Linked DNA regions of Homo sapiens: region 1 is linked to region 2. The links come from fine-mapping of genetic effects on gene expression. A gene starts in region 2. The other region holds a variant in brackets. All regions are shown on one strand. Distances are between the middles of the regions. Region 1 holds the start of BSG (basigin (Ok blood group)). Region 2 holds the start of GZMM (granzyme M).

What was found.
Region 1: its variant is fine-mapped to the expression of GZMM in whole blood (INTERVAL, PIP 0.97).

The regions. Positions count from the first base shown.
Region 1 is chr19:570,104-574,483 of GRCh38, reverse strand. It overlaps BSG (basigin (Ok blood group)), which reads right to left and starts at 1,888. Exons shown (of 9, transcript NM_001728.4): 1 at 1,783-1,888. The coding sequence starts at 1,849. BSG-AS1 (BSG antisense RNA 1) reads left to right here and starts at 2,236. Exons shown (of 3, transcript NR_184018.1): 1 at 2,236-2,375; 2 at 2,888-3,044. RefSeq lists silencers at 1,548-1,727, 1,898-2,117 and enhancers at 2,938-2,987, 3,068-3,640. The variant C/G (reference allele first, on the strand shown) is at 2,167.
Region 2 is chr19:541,818-546,197 of GRCh38, reverse strand. GZMM (granzyme M) reads right to left here and starts at 2,145. Exons shown (of 5, transcript NM_005317.4): 1 at 2,072-2,145. The coding sequence starts at 2,126. It overlaps CDC34 (cell division cycle 34, ubiquitin conjugating enzyme), which reads right to left. Exons shown (of 5, transcript NM_004359.2): 5 at 4,111-4,380. RefSeq lists an enhancer at 2,132-2,777.

The DNA.
Region 1 (4,380 bases), 28 kb before region 2:
CCTCCCTGGTTCACACCATTCTCCTGCCTCAGACTCCCTAGCAGCTGGGACTACAGGCGCCCGCCACCACGCCAGGCTAATTTTTTGTATTTTTAGTAGAGACGGGGTTTCACCGTGTTAGCCACGATGGTCTTGATCTCTTGACCTCGTGATCCGCCCGCCTCGGCCTCCCAAAGTGCTGGGATTACAGGCGTGAGCCACCATGCCCGACCTCTTTTTTTTTTTTTTTTAAAGACAGAGTCTCCCTGTTACCCAGGCTGGAGTGCAGTGGCATGATATCAGCTCACTGCAACCTTCACCTCCCAGGTTCAAGCGATTCTCTTGCCTCAGCTTCCTGAGTGGCTGGGATTACAGGCGTGCGCCAACACGCCCAGCTAATTTTTGTATTTTTAGTAGAGATGGGGTTTCACCATGTTGGCCAGGCTGGTCTTGAACTCCTGACCTCAGGTGATCCACCCGCCTCAGCCTCCCAAAGTGCTGGGATTACAGGTGTGAGCCACCACGCCCGGCCTCACTATAAATCTTTAACCCAGAACCAAATGGGGGTCTCAACAAAGGAAGAAATTTTCTATGAAGCAAGAAAGGATGTCATGCTTTTCTCCCGGAAAAACACACCTCAATCCATTTCCCAAATGCGCTCTCCAAACCACGTTTGCCCACCCTCAACACACGGCCCTCCTAAGACAGCACTGGAAACCGAATGCGGGTCAGAGTCGGCTAAAAACGACTTTCTCACTATTTCCTGCGCTGAATCGGGTGGCCAGGGCCCCCTCACTGTGACCTTGGAACCTCGACTTCCCACAGGGCTGTTTCCTCGCCTGTAAAGGAGGAGGGGCGTTCAGAGACCACCTCATTCTGGGTGCTGAATCCAGGCAGAATCAGAGGGAGATTCCGCCTTCCCTTCCACGCAGGGCCCCTCGAGGGAGCCTGCGAGGTCTTAAGAGTCTGGGAGAACACCCGGGGGCAGGTGCACGCCCTAGGCAAGACGCCAGGGCTAAATCCCGTGAAGAACGGTAATCCCTTCCCGATCCGGAGGGCTGACCCACTCAGAGCCTCCATGTGCTCTTGGAGGACAAAAGCCCCTTTTCCAGAAGGGAGCGCCAAGATGATCGCTCCAGGCCGCACGGGCCCTTGCGGGGGCCCCAGAGAGTCTCAGGGGAGGGTCTCTGACCCTAACACTCGCAGGCAGGGTGGACCCGTCTCCAGATTCCACGCCCAGGCCGCTTTCCCCAGGTCCTGCGGAGTCCAGCCCCAGCAGGACGGGTTGGGCAGGCACCAACCAGCCCCTGACCCCTGGCTCCAGGCCAAAGGGGACGCTCACCCAGGCTTTGGGTCTCCCTTCTCCTGGCCGATGGGACCGGCGGGCGGGCCACCTCCAACCGCCTTCGCAGACGCCCTCACCCAGGAAGCAGGTCACCCCCAACCCCAGGTGACCGAAAAGCAAGACGCCCACCTCCCCTGACCAAGACCGGCCTGGCCAGGACCCCCTGGCTCCCGCCTCCAAGCAGGGAGCTTCACGCCCACACACAGAGGCCGGGCTCGAGGCCGGAGCGCCCGGGGGAGCCCGGCAGGCCGCGCCGGGAGGAACCTCTAGTCCCCCCTCAAACCCTGGGACTTCACCCCCAAGCTCCATGCTGGCGCGGGAAGCCCCCGGGGCCGGCCTTTCGCACCCCAGGCCGCCCCGCGCCGAGGCCCCAGGCTCCCGTCGGCTTCGGGTCGGCACCGCGGCCTCCATTCCCGGCCCCTGCAGGACCGCACCCCCGCCCCCTACCCGCTCCTCACCAGCCCCGGAGGCTCCGTGGGTGCCCAGCAGCGCGAATCCCAGCAGCACGAACAGCGCAGCCGCCATGATTCCTATTCCTCGCCGGTCCTACAACCTCCAACCGCTGCCGCCGCCGCCCGCGGCCGCTATAAAAAGCGGCGGAGGCGCGGACCGGGCGCGCGCACGCACGGCGTCATCTCGGGGGCGGGGCGAGCGCCGGGGACGCCGGTCGCCCCGCCTGCGCACGCGCGCACACGCTCGCATGTACGCGCCGGCTCCGGCAGGCTCACGCTACGGAATCCGGGCGGCGGCGCACGTGACCCGGCGTTGCTAGGAAACGGGAGTGGGGCCTGCGGGGACGCGGCTGGAGCCTGCGCATTTCTTCCTTCCTGCTTTCAAAGTTG[C/G]AATGAGCGCAGAGCGGTGCGCCCGAGGGGGTTGAAGCGTTGAAAGTGTGTTACCCAGATTTTATCTGAGTTAAACACGGGCCGGCCGCTGTGGCTCACGTCTGTACTCCCAGAGCCTTGGGAGGTCGAGGCGGGAAGATCGCTTGAGCCCGGGAGCTCGAGACCAGACGCGGCAACATGGCGAGACGCACATCTCTGCCTTTAAAAATGTACATATATATATATATATATGAACGTATTAATAAATTAGGTGGGAGGAAGTGACCTCCTCCGCCCAAATAAAAATACTTAAAGGGCACTTGAATCTGGATCTCAGAAAATGAATAATTTCTTAGTATAAACGTCCTGTGCACCATTTGGTTGGGACAAGTAAGTTCCTCTTCAGAAACTCAACTTCCAGGTCTAAAGTTGTCAATCAACCTTACCCCCTTCTTCTTTCCTCGCAGGTGGCGCGTTTACCCTATTTTAAAAAAGTTTTAAGTTTTAGCCAACCGGGATCAGCTTAGATTGTGGGCGTCCAACCCCAGCCAACAGGGAAAGGACAGAGGAACAGAAGCTCCCTTCCTTTGTCCCGTGTGCTCTGGAGATTGCATCCCACGCAGGCAGCCCCCTTCCGTACAAGTAAAGTGGTCTCGCTGAGAAATTTTCTAAGTGCTGGTTTCTCTTTGCGGGACCGACTCGCCGCCCCCAAATATCCCATTTGGATCCCATTCTGTTTCAGGAGAGGCTGGCGGTTACCTTTCTTGGGGAGACGCGTCCGACTGCTTCATTGTGGGGGCCTCAGGAGCGGAGGATCGGGTCCCGCCCGAGGTGACGCGTAAACCCAGACTCTCAGCAACGCGGGTAGGAAGGACCCTTGAAGTTCCGCGGCGACCACGGTGAGAAAAGTCGCTATTGGGGCGACACAGGTGGGGGCGTCTCTTGGAGGTTGAAAGTGTGTGTTGGAAGTTAAACTCGGAGTCGCAATGCAAGAGGACCGCAGACTAAGCCGAACGCGAAGGGCTAACTGGAAAGGGGCAGGAATGTGGCTACACTGGCGGGAAGAGCCCGTGGCGACGGGAGGGGGATGTGCAGAGTGGGTGGCAGGTGCCATCTCTGCAGATCAGGACCGGCGGGAAACTTGTTTACTGAGACTCAGACGGGGAGGCCCAGAGGGTGAGGAAGTCAGGTTGGCCTTGGAAGTAGGAAACGAAGAACGAGGGCGCTGAACGAGCCAAACCTTTGAAGAGGAACTTGTGAATGAATGAGACGCGCCATATCTTTTGTGTGTGTGTGTGTTGGAGTCTCGCTGTGTCACCCAGGCTGGAGTGCAGCGGCGCGATCTCGACTCTCTGCAACCTCCGCCTCCCGGGTTCAAGCGATTCTCCTGCCTCAGCCTCCTGAGTAGCTGGGATTACAGGCGCGCACCACCACGCCCGGCTAATTTTTGTATTTTTAGCAGAGACGCCCCATATCTAAAGAAGGGTGGGATCCTCTAGACCACCTTCCCCCACTCACCCCTCCGCCCCTCCCAACCCACCCCCTCCGCCCCTCCCAACCCACCCCCTCCGCCCCTCCCAACCCACCCCCTCCGCCCCTCCCAACCCACCCCCTCCGCCCCTCCCAACCCACCCCTCCGCCCCCCCCACCCACCCACCCCACCCCTCCGCCCCTCCCCAACCCGCCCCTCCGCCCCTCCCACCCACCCCTCGCCCCTCCGCCCCTCCCCCACCCGCTCCTCCGCCCCTCCATCCCTCCCCTATAGAACCACCTGGACCTTGCCACCCACATCCCCGCTGGACAGCCACTAGAACATGCCCCTTCCTCAGGAAAGCTCCAACGGGAAACAGAACAATGCCAAAGGGATATTCGAAACTTTCGGCCGGGCGCGGTGGCTCACGCCTGTAATTCCAGCACTTTGGGAGGCAGAGGCGGGTGGATCACGAGGCCAGGAGTTCAGGACTGGCAGCCTGGCCACGATGATGAAACCTCGCCTCTACTAAAAATACGAAAATTAGCCGGACGTGGTGGCGGGCGCCTGTAATTCCAGCTACTCAGCTACTCGGGAGGCTGAGGCAGGGAATGTCTTGAACCCGGGAGGTGGAGCTTGCAGTGAGCCGAGATCGCGCCACCGCACTCCAGCCTCGGCAACAAGAGCGAGACTCCGTCTCAAAAAACAAACAAACAAACAAAAACCCACAGAACTTTCCTTTTGCCTCCTGCTCAAAAAGACCT
Region 2 (4,380 bases):
CAAAAATTATTTTAAATCAATCATAAATATAAAAGGATTGATTTCATAATGTAACGTAAATCAGCTCAAAATCTTCTCTGAATCCCCATCATGCTTTGAAAATCAAGTCCCCGCTTGCGGGCCGGTGCAGTGGCTCACGCCTATAATCCCAGCACTTTGGGAGGTCAAGGTGGGCAGACAGCCTGAGGTCAGGAGTTGGAGATCAGCCTGGCCAATGTGGTAAAACCCCGTCTGTACTAAAAATACAGAAATTAAGGCCGGGTGCGGTGGCTCACGCCTGTAATCCCAGCACTTTGGGAGGCCGAGGCAGGTGGATCACGAGGTCAGGAGATCGAGACCATCCTGGCTAACACGGTGAAACCCCGTCTCTACTAAAAATACAAAAAATTAGCCGGGCGAGGTGGCGGGCATCTGTAATCTCAGCTACTTGGGAGGCTGAGACAGGAGAATCGCTTGAACCCGGGAGGCAGAGGTTGTGGTGAGCCGAGATCGTGCCATTGCACTCCAGCCTGGGCAAGAATAGCAGAACTCCATCTTAAAAAAAAAAAATAGGCCGGGCGCGGTGGCTCACGCCTGTAATCCCAGCGCTTTGGGAGGCCGAGGCAGGCGGATCACCTGAGGTTGGGAGTTTGAGACCAGCCTGACCAACACGGGGAAACCCTGTCTCTACTAAAAATACAAAATTAGCCCGGCATGGTGGCAGGCGCCTGTAATCCCAGCTACTCGGGAGGCTGAGGCAGGAGAATCGCTTGAAACCAGGAGGCGGAGGCTGCAGTGAGCCGAGATGGCACCATCGCACTCCAGCCTGGGTGACAAGAGTGCAAGTCTAGCTGTGCCTGCAAGCTGCCTGCACCCTGGGCCTTTGTCTGTCTCACTTAGCTGCCTGCGTACCTTTCCCCCACCGGCTTCCTCCCTTGGTTTATGCTCGTCTCCTGCAACGGCCCCCCACCCGCCCTCTTGCCCTCCGTGTTTCCTCCGCTCTGCACAGTCTCATGCCTGGCCTGTCTCTTCCAGTCAGACAGGAGGGCAGGCCTAGAACAGCACGAGCCCTGCAAATACGGATGGATACACAGAAGCACGGGAGAAAGGAAGGAGGGATGGAAGGAGGAATGGATGATGGATGGATGGGAGGGAGGAGGGAAGGAGGGGGGAAAGGAAGAGAGAGGCATGATGGATGGATGGGTGGATACATGGAAGGAGGGAGGGAAGGATGACGGGTGGAGGGAAGGAGGGAGGTTGAAAGGAGGGATGGATGATGGATGGACGGGTGGGTGGAAGAATGGGAGGAAGGAGGAATGATGGGTGGATGGACTGGCGGAGGGAAGGAAGGGGGAACGAAAGGAGGGAGGGAGGGATGGATGATGGACCCATGGGTAGAGGGATGGATGATGGATGGGTGGGTGGAAGAATGGAAGGAGGAATGATGGGTGGACGGACGGGTAGAGGGAAGGAAGGGGAGATGAGGGAGGGAGGGAGGGAGGGAGGGAGGGATGATGGACCCATGGGTGGAAGGAAATAAAAATGGGAGGAAGGATGATGATGACTGACGGCTGGATTCCTACCTCTGTCCATCTTCTTGGGTCCCCAACTCATCAAGAGCCCCTGTCACTCAGTCCAGCTGGAATGCAGGGGAGCCGCCACCCACCTCCCTTCTCCCTCACTGCTGGGCACCTAGTCCCAGCCAAGCCCTTGGTGGTGGCAGGCAGCCAGCGGGGATCGAGTCCCAGCTCTGCCCTCCCAGCTGGGCAGTCCTAGGTCAGCATCTCCTTCGCCAAGTCTCAGTCTCCTACTCTGCACCTCGGGTGTGAGCGTGACCCCTGCCTTCTGGCTGCTGCCGGGAGGATGGGCGAGGTGAGCCGGTGGACACCACACTCTCCCACGGTCCCGGGATGTCCACTCGGGGTGAAGCGTGAGGAGCTCGGGATGCCCCAGGCCTCAGTCCCCCTCCAAACAAGGATGAATCTCCGCTCTTACACCCAGGATGTCGGCGCCCGCGCCCACCCCTCCCATCCAGGGACCCACCGAGAGCGCTGGGCCTCAGTGTCCCCCCTGCATCCCGGCTCCCACTCACCTACTGACAGGGCCCCCAGGGCCAGCACCAGCAGTGAAGACACGCAGGCCTCCATGCCGCTGTGGAGACCCAGTGTGGGTGCTGGCCCCGGCCCCGAGCCTCCCCACACGCGCTTCCTGTGGGGGAGGTGAGGTGACGGTCACAGCCCCGCCCACCGCTGCACACCCTCCACCCTCCATCCTTGAGCATTTTAGAAAGTGTTTCTCAAAGAGGACTCGAGATGAAGCCACACTACCATCATCACACCTGACAAAGTAACACTTTTTTTTTTTTTTTTTTTTCAGAGATGGAGTCTCGCTCTGTCGCCCAGGCTGGAGTGCGGTGGTGCGATCTCGGCTCACTGCAAGCTCCGCCTCCCGGGTTCACGCCATACTCCGGCCTCAGCCTCCCGAGTAGTGGGACTACAGGTGCCCACCACCACGCCCGGCTAATTTTCGTATTCTTAGTAGAGACGAGGTTTCACCATGTTGACCAGGCTGGTCTCAAACTCCCGACCTCAGGTGATCCACCCACCTCGGCCTCCCAGTGCTGGGATTACAGGCATGAGCCACCGCGCCCGGCCACTACTTCCTGCCTCTGAATTGGTCTCTAGGGACCTCCCAGGAGTGGAATCACACAGGACCTGTTGCGTTGGCGTCTCTCCCAGCATGACGTCCTCAAGGTGCATCCAGGCTGTGGCCTGTGTCAGAGCCTCGCTCCTTTTTGTGGCTGTGTCACATCCCATTGTGTGGCTGGACCACGCTGTGTTTATGCATTCACCAGCGGACGGATATTTGCGCTGTTCTAGTTTTTGGTCTTCATGAATAAAGACACTGGCCGAAGGCGGTGGCTCACACCTGTAATCCCAGCACTTTGAGAGACTGGGGCAGGAGGATCGCTTGAGCCCAGGTTGGGGCTGCAGTGAGCCGTAATTGCACCACTGCTCTTCAGCCTGGGTGACAGAGCAAGACCCTGTCTCAAAAATAAATAAATTTAGGCCGGGCGCGGCGGCTCACGCCTGTAATCCCAGCACTTTGGGAGGCCGAGGCGGGCGATCACCTGAGGTTGGGAGTTCGAGACCATCCTGGCCAACATGGTGAAACCCCATCTCTACTAAAAATACAAAAATCAGCTGGGCATGGTGGTGGGAGCCTGTAGTCCCAGCTACTCAGGAGGCTGAGGCAGGAGAATCACTTGAACCCAGGAGGCGAGATCGCACCACTGCACTCCAGCCTGGGCAACACAAGACTGTGTCTCAAAAACAAAACCAAACCAAACCAAGCAGCTATGGATGATCCTGAGACCTGGGTGTGGCTGTGCCAGTAACACTTCACTCACAATAGGGGCGGACGCCAGGTTTGGTCCCGAGGGCCATGGTTTGCTGAGACCCCAGGGCCCCATTTTCTGTCCCAACTTGGTGGGAAACCTCATCCTCACAGCTCCTCGACCCTGAATCAGCCACTGAGCGACTTTCCGGGTGCCCAGAAGCGGAACGCAGGCAGGTTCCTGGAAGGCGGTGCCCCGGGAGGGCATGGGAGCTCCGAGCTTTCCTCCATGACATGTAATAAAACGATGCTGGGGACTTCCTGACACCAGGACGTGAGGTGCCTGCCCTGTGTGCCCAGGGCCACGGCTCCCCACCCCGAGGGTGTGCCTGGACGGAGCTGGAGCCGCCGGAGTGCTGATCGGGGGCATCTGTGGTCCTGGGAGCCCTGAGACGCTGAGATCAACGCCCAGGCGGCTGTGGACCCGCGACGAAGCTTTGCTGGATGCCTGCAGAGGCAGCTCCCGTCCCACTAGATGCACCTGGTCACAGGGAGGAGGAACTCTGGGGGCTTTCTGGCCGCCCCTGTCCCGCAGGCTGGGGGATGCTGCCCAGGCCTGTCTGACCCAAGTCATGGGAACGTACAGGCCGCGGGACCCGGCTGCTCCCCGTGCCTCCCAGGACAGGCCTCCCAGATCCACACCTGGCGTAGCCAGGGTCCCAGTGGGACTGGCCGTGTGCAGTCACTCATGGACGTGGAGGCTGCCTCTCCCTCCCAAGCACAGCTTCTCTGGCCTCTCATAAAGTAGTTTTATTTAGATTTCAAACAAACCAAAGCAGGGAAAAGAGTCGGCCACGGTGAATCCGTCCACTCTGTGCTGGACGTGGCTCCAGGACCTGGAGCTGACAGGCAGGACCGGGCCCCTCGGACCGCTACACCTGGGCCTCCCAGGCTGGTAGTGTCAGGAAACGGCCCCCCGCCCACGTTCCCAGCAGCGCCCCCGTGGCTCCTCCGGGGTGCGGCCAGTCCGGAAGCTGGGGGACCCCGGTAGAAGTCGGGCTCAGC